Linked DNA regions of Homo sapiens: region 1 is linked to region 2. The links come from fine-mapping of genetic effects on plasma protein levels. A gene starts in region 2. The other region holds a variant in brackets. All regions are shown on one strand. Distances are between the middles of the regions. Region 1 overlaps IL1RAP (interleukin 1 receptor accessory protein). Region 2 holds the start of IL1RAP (interleukin 1 receptor accessory protein).

Region 1 (2,500 bases), 120 kb after region 2:
TACTCAGTGTTCATAGGATAGCAGTGGCGTTAAGCTTAAGCAAAACCAATCAGAGCCCTTAACCAAATTCTCATACCTGACAGTAAGCCTAGTTAAAAAGAGAACCTAGATGGCAGTCAGCTGTAGCAGAGAGATTTTTCTCTGCGATAAGTAAAGGAGTTCAAAGGGATTTTAAATTCTGATCTTGGACCCAAAACACTTGATCTCTGATTCACTGAGAGTTGGATATATTTATTTTTACAAAGTTTACGTGTTCATAACAGCTTTCTCTTTTTATATGTTAGGATTTAACCATGAGATTTCAGATTTCTGACCACAGTATTCTAGCTGTGTTCAGAATCCATGCTTTGGGAATCACTGAAATGCATCAGCTATTCCTATGGGATAACAGTAATACCTACATGAATATTTATTAAGCATTATTCTAATATTCATGCCTTAGCATATTCAGTCCTCAGAATTCCTGAATAAATTAATGCATGTAATGCACTGTGTGGGCATTATGACTTCCCTCTTTTCCAAAAGAGGAACCTGAGACCTGGAAAGATTAGTTATCTCACCCAAAGTATATAGCCAGGAATTGACAAATCCTGGATAAAAACCCAAAAGGACCTGGCCCCAGAAGCTTCTCTCTAAACTGATACAGCATCCTGGCTCAGAAGTTTAAGCAAAAGAGACATTTTGTTTTGAAGAGAGATCTATAAAAAGAAGCCAGTATTGGGATTTGGTCTAGACAATGGGATAGTGTGTAGCGTAGATGGTATAGTATAGTGTTAGAATCTTACCATTAATACTTTGTAATCACTGCATTATAGGTGGCTCAGCTTATCAACCTTCCTCGCCCTCACCTGTAGTGGGGGTCTGTGGTTGCTTACTTGTCTGATTCCTACACAGTCCATAGCTCTTGAGTCACTCTCAAATGCTTTGATTTTCTTCTCTCTATTTCTAGTATAAGTCATAGTAGAACAGAAGATGAAACAAGAACTCAGATTTTGAGCATCAAGAAAGTTACCTCTGAGGATCTCAAGCGCAGCTATGTCTGTCATGCTAGAAGTGCCAAAGGCGAAGTTGCCAAAGCAGCCAAGGTGAAGCAGAAAGGTAATAGATGCGGTCAGTGATGAATCTCTCAGCTCCAAATTAACATTGTGGTGAATAAGGACAAAAGGAGAGATTGAGAACAAGAGAGCTCCAGCACCTAGCCCGACGGCATCTAACCCATAGTAATGAATCAAACTTAAATGAAAAATATGAAAGTTTTCATCTATGTAAGATACTCAAAATATTGTTTCTGATATTGTTAGTACCGTAATGCCCAAATGTAGCTAAAAAAATCGACGTGAGTACAGTGAGACACAATTTTGTGTCTGTACAATTATGAAAAATTAAAAACAAAGAAAATATTCAAAGCTACCAAAGATAGAAAAAACTGGTAGAGCCACATATTGTTGGTGAATTATTAAGACCCTTTTAAAAATCATTCATGGTAGACTTCAAGAGTCATAAAAAAGATTGCATCATCTGACCTAAGACTTTCGGAATTTT[T/C]CCTGAACAAATAACAGAAAGGGAATTATATACCTTTTAATATTATTAGAAGCATTATCTGTAGTTGTAAAACATTATTAATAGCAGCCATCCAATTGTATGCAACTAATTAAGGTATTGAATGTTTATTTTCCAAAAATGCATAATTATAATATTATTTTAAACACTATGTATCAATATTTAAGCAGGTTTATAATATACCAGCAGCCACAATTGCTAAAATGAAAATCATTTAAATTATGATTTTAAATGGTATAAACATGATTTCTATGTTGATAGTACTATATTATTCTACAATAAATGGAAATTATAAAGCCTTCTTGTCAGAAGTGCTGCTCCTAAATCAGACTGTGTCTAAAACTTTCTTTGTGTCTCTCACCTAACACAGAATCCCAGAAAATCCCTTCAAGGATGTTTTCAATGGTCTTGAGAAAAGTAATGATGAGTTATCACACATGAAATCATGAAATCAGGTCATTCAGAATCCTCCTGGCTCCTAGTCTATAGAGTGTGTAATATTTCTTCAAAAGTGAATAACATAGCACATAATTGTTACATTTTACAGAGACTTAATGCTTTTTTAAAGCTGATGAAAAACAGGATTCACCTCAAACTTTCATTACAACTTTAAAACTAAATAGCAAAGGCCTGAAATGTATATGCTGCGTATGAAGTACTAGTGAATCAGTTCAGGGTAATTCATTGCTTCTGCTCCTCAGAAGCCAGTGTGAAAAGGAAAGACTGAAGTACATGATGTAAGGCAGTTTCCCAAATTGAGTTCTCGGGAACACTACTAAGAATCAGTATTGTCCTGCAATGCATTATTGTACTCTAGAATCAGAGCACCTGTGTTGAAATTCTGGTTTCTGCACATCCTAACTCTGTGAAAAGTAAATCTCTCTGAGCCTTAATTTCCTTATATTTAAAGTAGACACAATAATACCACTACCTTATAAGG
Region 2 (3,030 bases):
TGTTGTGAGCAGGTGCTGGGTCCCAGGTATCCTGAGATAAATAAAAATTTTGAGCAATTAATTTTCATAAGTGATGTCAAGAAGTAAAGTATCATGAACATTTCTATGGCTCCAATTACACTGATATTTCACCTTAGGAACTGAAGCTCCGCCAGGGCAGGGGCAGCCTCTGAGTTTCGTACTGCTGTGCACCTTTAGCAGCACGGGCACCTGCTGGTTTCATTTCCTTCCCACTCACCTGGGCCCTTTTCTTATTTCACATCTTTTTTCTCCTTTTCCTTAAATGCTTTCTCTGAATCTTGATTCTTGAAAATAAATTAGTAGGATTCAGTTAGGTAGGAGGAGGAGAAAAGAAGATGTGATGAGCAAGAAGATGTGCGAAGACTCGTCAGTCTGGTAGGTGGCTTTGGTTAGGGGGTTTCAGAAATGGGGACAGGTCATGAAGGGCCTTGCCAGTCAGGAAAAATCATGAGGCACTAGCAGTAGGAACACAGCAGAAGGTGCCTGAACAAGAGAGATGACTTAATGAAAGCCTTTATAACGCTTCCCGGGATATATTACAGACTACCATCTACAGTGGCAGAGGGCAGCTGAAGGAAGGCTCTTGCAAAAACTTGGGGAAATGGAAATGAATGAAGGCAAATATTTGTTTTGAGATTATTTCCTTCTATGTAACCTATTAGTTCTTTTATTCGTTCCCCATACATGTATTGAGTGCCTACTTTGTGCCAGGCACTGTGCTAGGCAATGGGTATATTACCAGTGGACAATACAGATTTAGTCTTGCTGTCATGTCCTGTTGCTTGCTCATATGAATGTCAGTTCAAGACAGCAAGAGCTCAGGACTGCGGAGATCGCATCTACATCCTGCCGCGCTCTGTGCCGGCACAGGGTGGTTGCGAAAATCGTGCAGTCTGAATTGATTCAAGGCCTTGCAGCATGATTGCTAAATACGTCGAGACAGGAAGAAAGGGCAGGGTGGCACCGATCTCAACTGCGAGAGCACGATCTTGCAATGAGCGCATGTGTGCGCCTCGGTGTGTAGTGAGGGGCGTAGCTTCCCACAGCGCCTGGCAGCGTGCCGAGCTGCGCTGCAGGACTAACCCTCTCCTTTCCCCGCGCGCTCAAGCCCGCACAGGCGGTGGCAGGGAGCCGAAGGGGCCGAGCGCAGCCTTGCATCCGTCCGCAGGCGGGCCCGGCGCCGCGCCTCCTGGCGGCGGGCGGGACCGTCCAGGACGCCGCCCCGCGGCCGCAGCTCCTGGAAGCCCAGAGCGCCGGTGGATCGCGAGCCAAGGCGGCGGGTGGAGCCTGAGCCGTGAGGCCGTGGCCAATCGCGCCGCTCCGGGGGAGGAGCCCCAAAGGGGGAAAAGAAAGTGCGGCGGAAAGTAAGAGGCTCACTGGGGAAGACTGCCGGGATCCAGGTCTCCGGGGTCCGCTTTGGCCAGAGGCGCGGAAGGAAGCAGTGCCCGGCGACACTGCACCCATCCCGGCTGCTTTTGCTGCGCCCTCTCAGCTTCCCAAGAAAGGTGAGTCTCGCGCCGCCGTGAGGGCTCAGAAGTCACCAAGCCGCAGAATCTCAGGGTAGACGGATTCTTAGAGATCCTATCGTTAAACCCTCCTACTTTACAGAAGAGGAAACTGAGGCACAGAACGAGGCAGCGGCTGGGATAGGTCATACTGCTAGTTAGGACTGGAGCCCGGATTCGAACCCAAACGTTCAGAGACCCATCTTTGCTTTGCAGGGATTTAAGTAACGCGGTTGTGGGACGTCTGCTCGTTGCCGCCCCCATCCTCAGCCCTTTGAGGGGTCTACCCTTGTTTTCCTCCTCACCGCCCCCTCCCCGCTACCACCCCCCGCCCCCATCTCCTCCTTGGTTTCTCCAGACCGCTGCTGGAAGCGCCGAGGACAGAAGGAAGCGGTGTGTCCCAGCACGCCCACTCGGTATCACGTCGCTCTCAGCGCAGAGCTGTGACAGCCTGGGAAAATGCTGCTTGCAGCCTCACTCCCTCTTCCCCTGACCTGCTTTCTCAGAAAGATGCCCCTTCAGAGGGTGTCGGACCAGCTTCTGGAGGAGCGCGGGGAGAGAGGAGCGAGGCCCGGGCGCCAGTGACCTCCTATGGTACTGTTTCTTCCCAGCCCCGGAGGAAGCGGAGCTAGTGGCCCTGTGGGGCACAGGGTGCCCCTCACTTGGGAAGAGCTGACTTCATGGAACCATAGAGCCCCTTCCCTCTTCTAAATACTGAGAGGGAGCAAGGAAGCTGAGTTAAAGAGAAAATCACAAACATAAAAGCAAACTTCGGCTGTTTCCTTTAAGAGCTAGCCCACAGCCTGTCTTCCCTCCACCTTCTGGTTGTGAAATTGTGAACCAGGGCGCCACGCGAAGCATTCTGCTGCTCTGCTGTACAGATCCCTGGTTTAGCTACTGGATGAGAAAGAGGACTTGAGTTTTGACTCCAGCTCTTCCATGTATTAGCAGTGTGAACTTGGGCAAGTTATCTCACCTTTCCGATACTGGGTTTTTCTTTTCTTTCTTTCTTCCTTTTTTTTTTTTCCAGCCAAAAAATGGAGATTTATAATGGTCACAATGAGCCCTTTGGGTAGTTGGAAGGATGAAATGGGATCATTCAAGTAGCATGTTTAGCACAGTGCCTGGCCTGGCATCTGGTTGGTTCAAAACCAATGGCAACTATTGTAAATATTGTTACATAGTAACCTTGCAGACAGTGGGTTTTCAGAAAGGTGATTTCATACCATCTTACAGAGGCATTTTAAAAAAATCTGTAAATGTGGTGTCTTTCTTCTTTTGAATTTGAGCAACTCTTTTATAATAAGAATTTTCTGAATGTTGTCCATATGTGATGTGGATCATGGATGCTTAGCTCGAAATGTAAAATTGATGTTTCTCGGTGATATGAATTTCCTACTAGTTTTTAGGTCAAACCTCAGGCCTGTGAACTGCCCTGATCTGAGACATCCTTTATTGACAAAGAGGGTCTTGAAATGGGTGAGAGGCAGAAAGACAAGAAGAC

Evidence for each region. PIP is the posterior inclusion probability: the model's chance that the variant is causal. Sun 2018 read protein levels with aptamers (SomaScan).
Region 1: its variant is fine-mapped to the plasma level of the IL1RAP protein (Sun 2018, PIP 0.95).

Annotation. Positions count from the first base shown.
Region 1 is chr3:190,628,401-190,630,900 of GRCh38, forward strand. IL1RAP (interleukin 1 receptor accessory protein) reads left to right here. Exons shown (of 12, transcript NM_002182.4): 9 at 950-1,098. Among named protein-coding and RNA genes, the nearest start is that of LINC02013, 70 kb to the right of the region's middle. The variant T/C (reference allele first, on the strand shown) is at 1,543.
Region 2 is chr3:190,512,694-190,515,723 of GRCh38, forward strand. IL1RAP (interleukin 1 receptor accessory protein) reads left to right here and starts at 1,392. Exons shown (of 12, transcript NM_002182.4): 1 at 1,392-1,526. RefSeq lists enhancers at 739-828, 1,581-2,082, 2,083-2,582 and a silencer at 979-1,328.